Regions from separate parts of the Homo sapiens genome. Here region 1 is linked to region 2. A link means that fine-mapping ties the variant in region 2 to the expression of a gene that starts in the linked region. Tissue or cell type: whole blood. Region 2 holds a variant in brackets; the other region holds the start of a gene. All regions are shown on one strand. Distances are between the middles of the regions.

The links. PIP is the estimated chance that this variant, and not a neighbour inherited with it, causes the effect.
Region 1: it holds the start of LFNG, and the variant in region 2 is fine-mapped to the expression of LFNG in whole blood (TOPMed, PIP above 0.99).

The regions. Positions count from the first base shown.
Region 1 is chr7:2,516,091-2,524,234 of GRCh38, forward strand. It overlaps LFNG (LFNG O-fucosylpeptide 3-beta-N-acetylglucosaminyltransferase), which reads left to right and starts at 3,684. Exons shown (of 8, transcript NM_001040167.2): 1 at 3,684-4,203. The coding sequence starts at 3,772. RefSeq lists silencers at 3,210-3,739, 3,750-3,859 and enhancers at 5,791-5,920, 5,961-6,020, 6,887-7,399.
Region 2 is chr7:2,494,880-2,503,054 of GRCh38, forward strand. No RefSeq gene overlaps it. Among named protein-coding and RNA genes, the nearest start is that of LFNG, 21 kb to the right of the region's middle. RefSeq lists enhancers at 1-567, 4,469-5,435, 5,436-6,401. The variant C/T (reference allele first, on the strand shown) is at 3,471.

The DNA of each region.
Region 1 (8,144 bases), 21 kb after region 2:
CCTGGCCCCAGCCTGGGGGTTGGCATTCCTGCGTCTGTGTCAGGAGAGGACAGGGAGGTGCAGGCTTGCCCGAGCCACAGCCACCACCATGCTGAGTCCTGTCCAGGAGTTTCCATCTCTGGGCACTGCTACTGGCCCAGAGGAAGCTGGTTCCCAAGACACTGAGTGGGGCCGCTCTCCATCAGCCGATGAGTGGACAGGCGCCTCGGATGGCTTCCTGCCGAGTTAATGGGTCACCCATTATGTCTCCACAGATCTTCCCAGGACCCTGCAGGAAGGCAGGCCAGAGCAGCCCCAAGGAACAGCCCGGGGGAGGGAAGGCAGATGGCCACCTCAAAGCCAGCCCCGAGCCCTTCCCCTCTAGGCCTGAGTGTCAAGGGCAGACCCAGCCCATGGCTTTGGGGACCTGGTGGCACTGACTCCAGCAGGAGAACCCCCGGGCTGAGCCCTGGCAGTTAGAGGAGGCCTGGACTCAGATGGGGACAGAACACTGTCTCAGCCTGATGGCGGCTAGAGGAGGAGGGTAGGGCCCCTGGTCATGTGGGTCCTGGCTCCGTGGGCCTGCTTTCCACCTGACCTCAGCAGGCAGGTCTCTCGGGCCATTCGCACACCCAGCTGCCTGGGAGCCCCAAACTGGGACTGGTGGAGGGGCCCTGCAGAGGGGAAGACTAGGGTCCAAGAAGCCCATGAAGCCATGCGCCAGGGCCAGAGCTGGCCTGCCTGGTCTGGATGGTATGTCATCCTTGTGTTACAAGTGAGGAAACTGAGGCTCAGGGAGTAACACCACCGGTTCAAGGTCTTAAAGCCGAGAAGTGGCCCCTCTGGGTTCGGAAGGCAGGCTGGGCCCTGGGGCAGCCTCTATCCCCAGCCCCTCTTCCCCAGGACCCTACGGCCCCAAGAGGCTTCACTGGCAACTCGGTCAGCCCTCTCTAGCCCCCTCCCCAGCTCCCCTTTGTCCTGTCCAGGGCTGAGCACCATCCCACAGCCCACTTCCCTACCAGGGCTGTGTGGCCCAGTGGGCCCCTAGAGGGAGACCTGGGGTCTGGATGGGGAGGGAAGTGTTTCAGGCTGAAGCTGAGCCTGGGGAAGCGGGCGGGGGTGGCTAGGCGGGCCACCCCCTCAACAGTTTTCAGACCTCAAGAAGTCACCACGAAATTCCATTCTCCTGACAGCAAAGAAATTGATTCACTCTTGCCAAAGCCTGCGGCCCCCACAAGAATGCTGTAAAGCTTCCTCCCGCTGCTTCCAGACAGGCAGCAGCATCAGGTCCCCCACTCCTCCCATTCCTGGCTACAGAGAGACGCGGGAACCCCCCCTACCCAGTTCTATGCATGTGCCCCTGCCAGGCTGGGCCATCCACCTCTGTATGGTCACTCCCTTGGTACAATATCCCCCTTGCTTTCTCTACAATGGGCACATTGCTCCCACGACCTGCTGGGTCAAAGGCACCGCAGTCAGGGGTAGCTGGGGAGCAGGAGTTGCGGGGGTGGGGCGGCTCAGGGCAGGAAGCCCCATCCCCTGGCCTGGGAACTGTGGGGAGATGGACTCACAGCATCTTGTCAGGTGGGGTGCAGGGTGGCATGGCACCCACCATCGGTGCCACTGATGTAAAGTCCAGGTACAGAGCACAACCCGTGCACATATTTGGGGGCTTGGCCATGCTTGGCTGCAGGGGATTGAGGAGGGATTGGGCCTCAAGAAACGGGGCTGGGACTAAGTCACGAGGTGCGTGAATATCAGGCGGGACTTTAACTCAGCCAGTGGAGAGCTATGGAGGGTTTTGCTCTTTGTGTGGGTGTGTGAGTGGCTATGATCCTAGTTGTCCAGCTGCTGCGTGGAGAATAAGTAAAGCAGGTAGGATAGGAGTGGGTGGGATGGGGGTGGAGGCTGCCCAAGTGATTCAGGGAAGAGATGATGGGGATGGATGAGGCTCCGTCTCTGAAACAATTCAGATATGGGAGAGCCTGAAGTCAGCGGTGTGACTGAAGCACGTGGGGTCATGGACACCCCTCAGTCCGGAGGCTGGGGCTGGGCTGGGACTCAGCTGACTTTGTGGGGGCAGCCAACCCAGTCACTGGGTCCTTTTCTCCCCGGCTCACCCTCAAGCCTCTCCAGCTGCATGGAGGCTCCAGGGCTAGGCTCTGGCTGATCGGAAGGGGTTTATGGCAGGAGGTGACGCCATGGGAGACTTGTCACTTGGGCACAGCCAGCACCATCTGCTGGGGCATCTGCTTTCGGAGGTGGTGACTGCTAATTACCTGGGGCCAGGAAGAGGCCTGGGAACCCCCATCCCCCACACCACCCAGCGGGTACAGGGGCTAGGGGTGGGGCCCCTGGGGCCCTAAGAGCAAATGGGCTACAGCGTCCTTAGCGGGGGGAGAGGGTCTGACAGTGGGGCCAGACATTTATCCAGTGAATTTTTTCAGAGCACCTACTATGTCCCAAAACCTGTTCCAGGTCTGAATGACACCAGGTCGCTGCTGTCTTGCGGCTGACATTCAGGTAGAGGTAAGGAGAGGGGCTCCAAGGGCACTTAAAGAATTTAAAATGCCATCTCAGGCGTGAACATAACTCCGAGGGGGGCAGTTTAGCCACGGTGGTGGCGGTGGTGGTCGTGGTGGTCGCAGAGACCCTGCTTAGGAGGGCACGGGAAGACAGCGCAGCCACGGGCAGAGCCGCCTCCGTCCACGCTTCCGGAGGACGTGGCGGGCAGGGGGCTCACACCCTGCTCAGGCGACCCTTGGCCACTTCCGGGCCCCTCGCCCCTCACCCTCGGCTGCCGGCGCGCATTCCTGCCGCCCCCGCTCGTGCGAGGGGCGGGCCCGGGCCCGTGGGAAGGGCCGGGGATGGGGGCCGTGTGCCGGGGAGGCGGGGTGGGGAGGGCGCACAGCTGGGCCGCATCTGGCCCGAGCGCAAGGAGACCAAATGGGACAGAAGGCGGCCTTTCATCCGGCGAGGGAAGTGGCGGCCTTCGTTTCTCCTCGCCATGGGGCGCCTGAGGATTTCGGGGAGCCAACCCTCCCGACGGAGGGCCAGGATCGAGGAAATCAGCCAGGGAGGAAGGAGTGGAATTTGGTTCTGGTGCTTTCTCGTTAGAACCTCGTGTCCCCACCTGCGGCACAGGTGGCCAAGCTCTTGCTCTGTACAAATAACGGCTCCCCTGAACCGAGCGCTCGGGAAGACCCAGGCGCCACCCCAGTTTGCAAGGCCTGCCGCGTCCCAAGGGGAGGAAGCCGTGCTCAGGAGGGGAAGCGCACAGCGAGGAAGTAGGATGTCCCCCGCGGTGCGTCGGAGCCCAGAGCCCGGGTCTCAGCACCCTGCCCGCTGCGCCGAGGGCGCGCCCCTCCCGTGCCGGGACGCCCGGTGCATCCCCGGACGGCGCTGGCCAGGCTGGGTTTCCTCTTCAGGGACACCGGCGCGGGCCGGGCCCGTCCCCAAGCCCCTCGGCGGCCCGCAGGGGCTACCCGGGGCGGGGGGGGTGCGGGGCGTGCACGTGCGCGCCGGGGGCGGGGCCGCTGCGCCCTCTGGGCAGTTCCCAGCCCCCAGCCGCGGCCCCACGTGGGTCTGCGGGCGTGGAGCGGCGACCGGCGCGAGGCCCCGCCCCCGAGCCCGGGAGCCAATGAGCGCACGGGGGCGGGACCGGGGCGGGGAGGTTTAAGAGCGCGGGACACTGGTGCTGCGCTGCTGGACTGCGCCGCCGGAGCGACGGGCTTCGGGTCGGTGCAAGGCAGGCGCACGGGGAAGGGCGCGCCGCGCGGCCGCCACCCCACCATGCTCAAGCGCTGCGGCCGGCGCCTGCTGCTGGCGCTGGCGGGCGCGCTGCTCGCCTGCCTGCTGGTGCTCACCGCCGACCCGCCGCCGCCTCCACTGCCCGCCGAGCGCGGCCGGCGCGCGCTGCGCAGCCTGGCGGGCCCCGCGGGGGCTGCCCCGGCGCCCGGGCTGGGGGCGGCGGCGGCGGCGCCCGGGGCGCTGGTCCGCGACGTGCACAGTCTGTCCGAGTACTTCAGCCTGCTCACCCGCGCGCGCAGAGATGCGGGCCCGCCGCCCGGGGCTGCCCCCCGCCCCGCCGACGGCCACCCGCGCCCCCTGGCCGAGCCGCTCGCGCCCCGAGACGTCTTCATCGCTGTCAAGACCACCAAAAAGTTCCACCGCGCGCGCCTCGACCTGCTGCTGGAGACCTGGATCTCGCGCCACAAGGAGATGGTGAGCCCCCCGCGGCCTGGACTGGCGGGCGAGCGGGGCGGGGACCCACCATCTGGTCCAGCTGGTGGCAGTGTCCCATGGGAGTCAGGCTGCATCCCCATCCAGCCACTAGGGCCATCTGTGGGCGACGCCAGTGCACCCCGGTGCACCCAGTTTGCCTGCTGGGGCCACTCTCCCGTTACAGTTGTGTTACTGTCCCCGGGGCCCCGCCTCCTGTCCAGCTCCAGAGTCCTGGATGGCTGCAGGACCCTACACCAGTCTCCAGTGCTTGGGGTTGGTGCCCTGTGATACTTCTCACCCCGTAAACATTGGAGCGCATTCATAGGGCATTATGTCCTCAAACTTCCACAAGCAAATTCTGTTCGGACCCACCCTCAGCTCAGACCCCTTCCTGGGGAGAAAGGCTCTTCCTTTAGAGAAGTGAGGGGTTCTGACCTCTGGGCCCTTTCCTCATCACAGTGTTAAGGTACGGGGAGGGAGGGAAGTCATTGCTGGTTGGTGGGTCCTGGGGAGTACATCTCAAAGAACTCCAGGTTTTGGGGTCTGTGTGGGGACCCTCCCCGCACAGTGCAGTAGTCTCTGAGGCCTGCAACCTTGGGCACAGCCCACTTCAGTTGGGCATCAGCTTCTTACACACACATAATTAAGACACACCCCACTTTGAACATTTCCCTCGAGGCCACAGCAGGACGGTTGGGCTGGGGCGGGATGGGGACAGTGTGTGGGGCTTGCAGTCGGGGACTGGGGGGGTGTCTCTGGGCTGGGAGATGCAGAGGCATTTGCTGTGAGGGTGGGGGCTCAGGGAAGACCCTGCACGCCTTCCTCCCTGCTCAAACCCCGGAGACCCAGGGCCTTCTGACCTGGCGCTGTCCTGTTTTGGGGCACTGTGGGTGGGTGGGAGCAGGGCTTGGTGAGGTCATGAGGGCGACGGGGAGGGGCAGGGTCCTCCCTGGTCCTGGCGTGGGGAAGGGGCCCTGGGAACCCCATGGCAGCCTCCTGGGAACACAGCGTCCCATTCCCAGGGGCTCAGCGGGCTGGCGGGAGGGGGCGGCGGGGGCCGTGGGTTTTGTTTGGCGGCCGGGCCGTTAGGATTCCCAGCGCCGGGCGGCTCTCACGCCGGCCCCTTGGGCAAGGTAACAAAGCCCCTTTCTCCAGCGAGAAAGGCGTCGGGCCCCTTGTGTGCAGCTACGCGCTCCGTGGGAACCGCTGCTGGCGTGCTGGCCACTCAGGTTGCCTGGCGATGAGGGGACCAGCGGGCCCCCCCAGCATCTCTTACTGACAGTCCTTTTGGGGCACCATCCCTGAGCCTGGCCCCCCCACCCCCAGCACTCAAGCCTTACTGCTATGTGATCTTGGGCATCCTTCAGCCCCACTCTGGGCTACCACCAGCTCTGAGCACCTCTCATCTTGGAATTTGGGGCCTTTCTCCAACAGAGGGGATGTGGTCAGAGGGCTGGGCTGTGTGATCCTGAGCAAGACCTGGGGCCTCTCAGACCCTCACTCTGATCTCTGAAATGGGGGAACATGGTCCTTCCAGGAGCACGTTGTAAGAGACTGGCAAAGCCTGCAGGCATGGGGTGAACCCGGCGGGCACTCAGGGTCGAGGTGGGGGCCATCACTCCCTTGAGCCCTGAGGTCCCTACTGGAGGGTCACCCCACCAGGGGACAGGTTGAATCTGCCCTCAGCATCAGTTCACCAGCACACAGCAAGCAAAGACCCCCTTGTGGTGGGTGATGGGCAGGGGTCCTGGAAACCCACAGAAGAGGGCCCCCCTCTCCCAGCCCTGCACGGAATGACTCAGACATGGTCTGATGGGGGAGATAGAAAGATGTCAGGGCTGTGCGGGGGGAAAACCCCGAGAGGCTGTGTGAGGCAACAGTGGGCATCTGACCCACATGCTGGGGGAAGGGAGGGAGGAGGGAAGACTTCCTGGAGGAGGCGCCATTTGAGCTAGACTAAGAGTAAAAAAGTGCCCAGAAAGGGCACTCCATCCGGGCATGGTGATGACCACAGCATGGGGGTTGTGCAGGAAACTTCTAGCAACTGGAGTGGTGGCTGGGGGGAGGGTCGGTTGGTCAGCAGGGGCCGCGCTGAGATGGGCCTGGAGTCCAGGATGAAGAGCCTGGCCTTTGGCCCAGAGGTTCCCCGCCCCTCCCAGGAGCAGCCAGGCTGCCGCGCTGCCACCACAGCGGCCACAATTGCTGGGGAGAACTTGGCATCCTGTGTTTCTTTGAATCGCGGCTCCAGGAACAATGCTGCTTCCTGTGGGTGTCCCCCGGCCCCCGCCCCCGTCCACCCTCATCCACCCGGCTCTTCCTCCTGCAGCCCCGTCTTCGTCTGGAAAGTTAGGTGGCACTGGGGGGTCTGGGTCCCTAGAAGGCAGGGACTGGGCTGGTCTAGCACCGCCTCGGCCCCAGGGTATGACCTCAGGCTGGTGCCTGCACCTCTCTGGGCCTCAGTTTCCCCACTTGGGCCTCAGCTGGTAATGGCACCCACCTCCGAGGGCTGTCAGGGAGAGGAAGGGAGAGAATCTGTCTTTGCACTTTGTTCTCTGCCCAGGGGAGCTCTGTTATGCCCATTTTACTGAAGACGAGACTGAGGCTCTGAGCGGCAGGTGAGGCCTATAGCCCAGCAGCGCCTTTTTCCTCCCCTCCTGGTGGCTCAGGTGTCGGGAGACAGTTCGACCGGCACCCCCGCACCCCATAGCCCCGCCTTCTCAGATGCTGTTCTAGAGGCCTCCCTGCTCCCTGAGCTGAACAAAGGTGACTTTAATCTCCGTAGCCTTGGGCTGGGTTTTTAGGGCACCACCAAATCTCGGGAGAACAGGCCTCCCTTGATCTCATTAAGAAAGCATTTTCCTTTTAACCCAGCGGCGCAGTGGAGCGTCTGCAGGGGCTGGCCCTCCGCCTCCCACGGCATTCCTGGGCTGAGATTCTGGGGAGGCCAAGGGGCTGGGTGCGAGTCTGTGCGTGTGGCTGCCCTGGGGTGTCTATGGGTGCTGCAGGAGGGGTGCATGCATGGAGAGGCGGAGACCCAGCCTGCCACCCCCTTAGCTCTGGGCCTCACCCTAGTGAGCATGTGCCCAGGGCTGGGTCAGGCTGGATAAGGATCTGAGACTACCAAGGTGTTCCAGGGCCTCTGCGGGACCTGTGTGTACAGGGAAGGAAACTGAGGCTGGGTGGGCATCAGGGGGTTGTCCCTTGGTCAGAGCATTGCCCGTACACCCTGGGTTTTGCACTCAGCCATGCCAGGGTGCGCCGGGCGGCACGCGCTGGGCGGGCCGGGCAGAGGAAGGAACATTCCTCCCCGTGTGCCGGCAGGCCCAGGCGGGCGCCGGCGACTCCTGGCCCCGCCCTGGCGGCCCCCTCCTCTTCCGCAGAGCGCTCCTGGCAGGGGGCGGCCGCGTGCTGGCACAGGTGGGCTGTGGCCTTGGGCAAGCCTGGGTTTCCTTGCCTGAGCAGTGGGAGGGGTGCTGGGCTGCATGGGTACTGGGGGCCCCTGACCTGGGGGCTGGGGACACCTGAGGTTTCCTGCCACAACCCTGCTGACCGTTGGCAACTTTGCAGAACTTCAGGGCTGCTTTGGCTCAGAGTGGGTAGCTTGTCCTGCAGGTCACCCAGGACAGGGGTGCTGGCCCAAAGGGCAGCTGTGGGGTGGCTGCAGTGCTGGTGGCTGCACCCTACGCGCGGGACCTCATGCCCAGCCTGGCCCGGTTAACCAGGCCAGCTGTATGGTAATGGGCGGCGCGGCCACTCTGCTTAACTCGGCCGAGTTAAGGCCGGCCCGGCGCCCCTCTCCCGCCAGCCCAGGACAAAGCTGGCGGACAATGCCTGGTGATTCATCCTCCCTCCAGGCCCTTTGTCCGCCAGGGCTTGGCAGCCGCCCAGCGAAGGCCTTTGTCCCCAACCCCGAGTGATTGAGACTTGGCTTCCCACAGCCG
Region 2 (8,175 bases):
GGTGCTGTCATCTGCGACCCCTCTAAGGGAGGCTCCCCAGGGAGGCCCGAGGGGCAGTTTAATGAGGAAACAACGTGGCCAACACGTGTCTCCCGGGGAGCAGTCAGGGCCTCCTGCTCTTGTCCCTGCCCCCGAGTCCCTTGTTCTCGCCATCCCCTCCACTGCACCTGTGAGGGGCCTCCAGGCTGGGTGACATCTGAGCATTCGCGGTCCAAGTGGTGTGGGGACTGGGGTCGAGAAAAGGAGAGGGGGGCCGGGCCCGGTGGCTCACGCCTGTCATCCCAGCAATTTGGGAGGCCAAGGTGGGCAGATCACTTGAGGTCGGGAGCTCGAGACACGCCAACATGGTAAAACCCCGTCTCTACTAAAAATACAAAAATTAGCCGGTCATGGTGGCGCATGCCTGTAGTCCCAGCAGCTACTCGGGAGGCTGAGGCAGGAGAATCACTTGAACCTGGGAGGTGGAGGTTGCAGTGAGCCGAGATCTTGCTACTGCACTCAAGCCCAGGTGACAAGAGCGAAATTCTATCTCAAAAAAAAAAAAAAAAAGAAAAGGAGAGAGGCTGGTGGCTGGAGGCAGGGGTGGAGGCAGGGGGTCGCCTGCCCACTGGCTGCTCCTCCGTCAGCCTCCTGTCATGCACACCCCGCACACGTGTGCACCACCGCTCAAACCATAAATATGGGCAGGGCCAGGAGCAGCACGTGGGGCTGAACACTGGGCGTAGTGGCTCCTCATCCCCCGCCACCATGCACAGCCTCGCTGAGCCCCCAGGCCCAGCCCTGTGCCTGCCCGGCCCTCAGTCTTGCCATCTGGTCAGTGGGTGGGGCTCCCACATCTCCAGGGGTGGCCCCCCGAACACCTACAGTCGGGTGAGTCTGTTTATGAGCCGGGACTCCCACCCCAATCCCAATTCTCCCAATTCTCTTTGGGTCAGGAGGGGAAATTGAGGCCCAGAAGGTCACTCTAGCCTCCTCTGGAGCACGGCCCCTCAGGCGCTGGCAGGGTGTGGGCTGGTCCTGTCTGTCTGTCCATTGTTCCACGGCCACCAGGGCCCCTGACCACCCCACCCCCACTGCAGAGAGGAGGCCCTGTGGGGAGGGAGTGGGGCGGGGTGCCGTGGAGGGGGCCTGGGGGGTGTGGGGAGGGCCAGACCTGTTAACAAGCTTCTTCCCAGCCTCACCCGCCTTCAACTCCCCAGCCCTTCCCAGGCGGAAAATTCAATTAGTCTCGAGCAACTGCTTTGCTGAAGAGCCAGAGAAAGGGGACCCGCCTGGCGGCTGTTGTGTGTGTTGGGGGAGGGGGGATGAGGGGGATGCAGAGGCAGCAGGAGGGAGGGTTAGGAGGTAAACAGGCTGCTGGTGCATGCAGTCCACCGGGTCCCTGTCTCTGTGCGTCTCTAGAGGTGGGTCTTTGTATGTGACTGTGTGTCCTGGGCCCCTGTGTGCCCACCTCTGCTCCTGCACAAACACAGCCCCTGGAATATTCCGTGTGTGCCCCTCTGTCCCCTTAGCCAAAGCGTCAAACCGGCTCATCTTAAGTCAAGCTCGGCTCTAGGTTCTCATGGCTGGGTGCCTGAGGTGGGGAGCACCCCCCTGCAAACTGCATCATGCCACGCTCTACTCACAGGGGTGTGGTGTGGCCCCAGGTCTCCCAGACTAGGTGTCCCCGCCCCCACCTTGGCTCCACACTGGCCTCTTGTCCCATCCTCTGTCAGCATCCTGGCCACAGGGCCTTTGCACATCCTGCCTCCCCCACGCCTGGTAAGCTTCCACTTACGAACCTTGCCTCCAGCAAGCCCAGGCCTCTTCTGTCTCCCATCACCACTGGGCCGCACAGCCAGCTGCCAGAAGTTTCCTCTGTCGAGGGGTGGAGGGCAGTCTTGTGTGGACTACCCACCGTCCCTGTGACCAGCACCGGGCCCAGCACACAGCAGGTGCTCAGTACATTTTTTGTTTGTCTGTCTGTTTGTTTGTTTGTTTTGAGACAGAGTCACTCTGTCGCCTGGGCTGGAGTGCAGTGGTGTGATCTCGGCTCACTGCAACCTCCACCTCCCAGGTTCAAGAGATTCTCCTGCCTCAGCCTCCCAAGTAGCTGGGATTACAGGCACGCACCACCACGCCTGGCTAATTTTTTGTATTTTTAGTAGAGACAGGGTTTCGCCATGTTGGCCAGGTTGGTCTCAAATTCCTGAGCTCAAGCAATCCAAACCCACCTCAGCCTCCCAAAGTGCCGGGATTACAGGCATGGGCCACCGCACCCAGCCAAGTGCTCAATAAATGTTGAGTACATTGATGAAGTGCCCAAGGGGGTCTGAGCACAACTCTCAGGCCCACATAGGAGTTTAGAAATGACAATGAGTTCTGCACGCCCCTCTCTACCTGGTGGACTCCTATGCATCCTGCTATGGCCTGATTTTCAGTACCCTCTCCTCCAGGAGAGGCTCTGAGGATCAGTGAGAACAAGCATTGCAGCTTGGCCTCAGCCTGAGGTGTCTGTGCTTTCCTCTGGGACCCTCTCCCCTGGTCTCTAGCCCATGGTCTCCCAGGTCCCACCCAGGTACCCCTGATGGGATGAGGGGCAGACCTCCTTACTCTGCTGTGATTGCATCCCGGACCTGCAGGGAGAAGAGCCGGCCAGCCTGGCCTCTACCCAGAAGCAATCTGTGCTGCCCGGAGTGCAGGATGGGGACAGAGCTGCCCATCTGACCAGCCCTGCCGCACTGCCCTCTTCCTCCCTCCACCTTCCCTGGCCCTAAAGCCCCCAATCCCTGCATGAGGAGTGGGGGGTACCCAGTTGAGTCAGACGCTCGTGGGTGTCCAGGAGCTGGGGGCAGCCATGGACAGGGCGTTCCTTCCCAGGTCGGGGGGGCCCTGCTCCCAGTACACAGGAGGGTCTGGGGCCACCAGGCGCACAGGAAGCCTCGGGAAAATTTGTCAAAGGGCTGAGGGAGTCACCCACAGGAGGAACAGGGGGTGACGGGCATGGACAGGGTCCCCAGACCCTGCCGGGGTGGGGCCCGGTGCCCATGTGACCTGTCAAAGCGGGTTTGGGATGGGGAGGGGGCCCCAGGGTCTGCTGGGGAAGGAGGGGGCGTGGGAAGGGCCAGATGTAGGGAGGGGCAGCGTGTGCAGGAATGCGGGCGGCCCCTCCTCTTCCCCGAGAGACAGAGGCAGATGGCAGGCTGGGGGCGCTGAGGATGGAGGGGGAGGCCAGCCAGCCCCGGCTCTGATGGGTGCCTATGGCCCCTCCCCCAGAGTTGAGGGGGACACAACCTTCTCAAGTTCCCAGCCCCATAACCTCTGCCAGCTGCGTGCAGCTGGGGCCATGCCCGGAGGAAACCCAACACCATGGGGGGGTGGACCCCGGGCCCGGCTGCTTCCTCATCAGGACTGTTTGTGAGCTGCTGGGATGCTCATCCCAGGGGCTGCAGGCCGGTGCTACAAGAAGTGACAAGGGTGGCCCCCAAGCC[C/T]GGGTGTCACCACCCCAGTAAAGGCTGGAGGGTGCTGCGTAGATGCAGCTCCCTGCTTGGAGGACCGCCTAGCGCACCCTGTGATCACAGTAGCCCCTCACGAGCTCCAAGCTGCACACAACCTCCAGGAAGAACAGGATCCTGAAGCTGGAGAGGTCGAGGCCAGGTTAGGGTATGGGGTACCCAGGGTAGGGGAGGCAGGAGCAAGAAGCTGCTCAGCCTCCACTCTTGAGCCTCAGTTTCCTCACAAGGGCCCTGGCCCCCAGCAAAGGGCTGTGATCTCACCTCCTAGCTGGCCAACCTCCCAAAGCTCCTTTCTCACGTGCGGGCCTCATCGAGTCCCTTAGTGGGACAGGGCAGAGCCCACCCGGAGGTCCCATGGAGAGCCTGCCTTTGCCCCCATCCCTACCCTGGAGCTCTGCACTCCCTCAAGTATACCCTACTCTTCAGGCAGGGAGACTGAGGCCCTGCCCAGAGCTGCCCCGTCTCAGCTCCCTGGTTCCTGCCCAGAGCCCGGAGTGGGGGCTGTGTGGGGAGGGGCTGCCAGATGGCTGTAATCCCATGTCAACAGGGGTTTAGACACCTGCTCAGCTCCTTGCCACCCCCTCAGGCCTGCCCCGCATTCCGGCACATCTCGGCTTCCAAGGGGCTTTCCCCACTTGGCTGGAGTCTGGGCCTCCCACACTGGGGTGGGGGTGCTGTCTCCCCACCCCTGCCCCATCTGAAGCACAGACTTCACAGCCTGGTCTCAAAGGCCAGGCCTGCCGCTGCCCCCACTCACTGTCCTGCCACGGGTCCAGGCCTGGGAATGGGCTGGGCACTGTGGCAAATCACACGAGTGAATTTTCTGGACAATTGGGGCTGGAGATGTGGTGGTGTCTGAAGCAGCATCATGGGGCTGGGTCAGGGAGGCTGAGGCCCCCACTTGGTGCTGAGCCGCAGAGGAGGGATGGCAAGAGGTCTTGGGAAGGGGTCTACTGCTGGGGCAGAGGGTCCCAGGGCTGAGCTCCGGGGTGGCCAGGTCAGGTGGGCAGGACCTGGTGGGTGGAGGCTGGGGGAATGGTGAACGGGGCAGGCAGAGCTGGAGGCCAGGGCCCTGTGGAAGGAGCCAGGACCGGGGTCTGTGAGACAGGAGGGCCCAGTGCCCACATGGCTGAGGCTAGCTCTGGGACAATCTCCTGATGCGGACATGGGTCACGTCTGGAGACAAGCCCTTGGAGGAACTGGAGCTTAGAGTTGTAGTTGGAGCTGGGATCAGCTGGGAATGAGGACAGGGGTCAGGCGAGCCTCGGGGGTGCTAGCTTCTTCCCATGCTGGGATCCCTGCTCTGTCTATCCAGGTGACCTTCCCCTGCCCTACGCTGTGGCCCACAAGCCTGACTTGAGCCAGCTCATCCACTTAGGAAATGCAACCCCTGGCCAGAGCACGTCCACAATGAGGACTGCCCCCAGCGACGCCCCACCCTGGACCCCTGTTTAGTGGTAGCCAAGCCAGGTAACACTCAGCCCCTCTCAAGCCTGGGAGTCAGACCAGGTAACACGCAGGCCCTCCCACTCAGGGTCTGAGTCTACGTGGGTCCTGGACATTCCGTTCCGACCTGCAGGGGTGCCGAGAGGGTTGGGGAGGAAGGTGGAAGCTGGTTCTTGTTCCGGCCCAGCACCTGGCCCCCTGGCCACCCCACCCACCCTGGAAACCCCCCTCCTGGCTCCCTTCTTTCAGAGTGGGACAGGCCTTTCAGGGCTAGGAACGGAGGGCCTGGATTTCCATGTCAATGGCGAGGCAGGCCCGCCTGGTAAGCTGCTTAACAAGCCTCCAGCCCCATTGGGGTGTTAACTCAGGCCCCATTCTCCGGGCCCAGTCTCGCGGTTGCCATGGTGCCCTGCGTGGCCCTTTGGGCCGCGGCTAATCCCTTCTCTGGGCCTCTCATCCCGGCTGTCCCACCCCCGGGCTGGTCGCTGGTGACTTGGCCATGCCCAACAAGGCTGGTTTCTCTGCCGGGGTCAGGGGAGGTCATAAATCCAGCCCCCGTGGTCCCCAGCCCCTCGGCCCCGGCGCTTTGTCCCCGCCACTGTCCCCACATCCCCGGCCCTCCCGCTCTGGGAACTCCAGTGGTGGGAAGCGCGTTTGCCAGGTGGTCAGCCCCTCTCCCTGAGGAGAGAAGGGTCCCCGGCCCTGCCCTGGCTCTCTCCTGCACCCTGGTCACTATCACCCCTTATTCTCCCTCCTTTCCACTCCAGCCCTTCCAGGAATGAGCCAGGCTCATCCCTCAGGGCCTTCACTCCAGTCTTCTCATCCTTGGGTCGGGAGCGGTGAGCTCTTCCCCAGCCCGCGTCCCCGAAAGTCTCCCCTGGAATGACCCTTCCTTCCTCCGAGAGGCTGCAGGCCTGGCCCCCCCATCCTGTGGCACTGTCCCTTCTAGCACTCCATGAGAATCACGTGCTGTCCACCCTAATCCAGGGGGCAGGCCTGCAGCACCCAGGATGTGGCTGGCCTGTGGCAGGCTCTGCCACTCTGCGTGAAAGATAGCAGCTCTCGGCTGGGCGCAGTGACTCACGCCTGTAATCCCAGCACTTTGGGAAGCCGAGGCAGGTGGATCATGAGGTCAGGAGACCGAGACCTCAGCCGAGGTGGATCATCTGAAGTCACGAGTTAAAGACTAGCCTGGCCAACATGGTGAAACTCCATCTCTACTAAAAATACAAAAGATTAACTGGGCGTAGTGGTGCTCACCTGTAGTCCCAGCTACTCGAGAGGGTGAGACAGGAGAATCACTTGAACCTGGGAGAAGGAGGTTGCAGTGAGCCAAGATCACGCCGTTGAGCTCCAGTCTGGGCAACAAGAGTGAAACGGTCTCAAAAAAAAAAAAAGAGGGCCGGGCGCGGTGGCTCACGCCTGTAATCCCAGCACTTTGGGAGGCTGAGGCAGGCGAATCATGAGAGACCGGTGAAACCCCATCTCTACTAAAAATACAAAAAATTAGCTGGGTGCGGTGGCAGGCGCCTGTAGTCCCAGCTGTTCGGGAGGCTGAGGCAGGAGAATGGCGTGAACCCGGAAGGCAGAGCTTGCAGTGAGCCGAGATCACGCCACTGCACTCCAGCCTGGGCGACAGAGCGAGACTCCATCTCAAAAAAAAAAAAAAAAAAAAAAAGAAGAGAAAGATAGTGGTTCTCAGCTGCAGAGGGGGTATGGCCTGAGGTCAACAGCAGTCAAAGGGTTGGTCACCCCCGGGGTCCGGGCTGACCTGACTCCACCTTTGGGGTCTCACCTGAGCCAGCTCCTCCCTGGCCCCAGAATCTCACCTCAGAGACCACCTTCCCTCCTTCCAGCAGCGTCTGTTCCCAGAAGACAGGATCCCGGGATCCTGGAATTCCCGGCCGAGGTGTGATCTAAGGTTCACCAATTAGCCTGGACTCCAACTTCATGCTTGCTCCCCGGCCCTCCTCCCCTGCCAGCTTCTGCTTACCTGCCTCCCAATAGGGAGCTCACCATCTGGGCAGTTCGGACAGGGAGAAAGTGTCTCCTTGGGTGTTTGCTTCCAGATCTGGGCTTGGGCTTGGACGGCCGGGAACCATAGCTCAATGGGCTTTGCCCCTGCTGGTGGCTCCCAGCCTTGGGGTGCAGTGGGTGACTGCTCGCTCTCAGCTCTCAGCTCCCTGGCTGGGCCGTGGGTGAGTGGCTGTTGGCCAGGGCCTAGGCCCTATATACCCAAGCATCCCCTGAAGGTGCAGTGCAGAGGGGCCCAGCCTGTCCCCTAGAAGTGAGGTGCAGAGGGACCCAGCCTGTCCCCTGAAGGTGGGGTGCAGAAGGGCCCAGCCTGTCCCCGGAAGGTGGGGTGCAGAGGGACCCAGCCTGTCCCCTGGAGGTGGGGTGTGGGGGGCCCAGCCTGTCCCCTGGAGGTGGGATGTGGGGGGCCCAGCCTGTCCCCTGGAGGTGGGGTGCGGGGGACCCAGCCTGTCCCCTGGTGGTGGGGCATTGGGTCCCAGCCTGTCCCCTGGAGGTAGCTGTGGGAGATCTAGCCTGTCCCTTGGCCATGGGGAGTGGGGGTCCCAGCCTGTCCTCCCCACAGCTGGGCATGTACTGAGGGTTGCCCACAGCCTTTATTGCCCTTCGGTGTCTCATGGAAATTTCGTGGGGTTGGAAGGACAAGAAATGGTCCCATTTGGCAGCTGAGTAAACTGAGTCTTAGGAGGAAAGGCTGAGGCCTCCTGGGGGAGGCAGAGGCTGACACTGACCCTGCGGGTCCTGCAGCTAGAGGGAAACAGCCCCAGCCCACGTCTCACTGACGCCCTCTCCCCTCGGGATGGCTCTCGGACTCCTGTGGCCCAGACACCCACGCCCAGGCCCCCTCCCACGAGCCACCACCAGGGCTCTCGGCTCCCTGAAGCCCACCCTGCCAGGGGCAGTCCCGAAGGTGGGGGCCATCGGGGTGGGACGCTGAGCAATGCTGGGGTGAGGGGACAGGAGGTGCAAGATGAGGTGAGGGTGCTAGGACCCCGGGAGGTGGGCGGAACACGGAGGTCATTTGGGGTGGGGGGTGTGTGGTAGGGGGTGTGCTGGCTGGGCGGGACCCCGGGAGATGGGGGGAGCGAGGAGGTCATTTGGGGGTATGGGGGGTGTGAGGTGAGAGAGGCCAGCTGGGGGGAGGGTCACGGAGGCCTCTGGGCAGAGTGGGAGGAGGAAGCTCCTGTCAGCCTCAGTTTCCCCA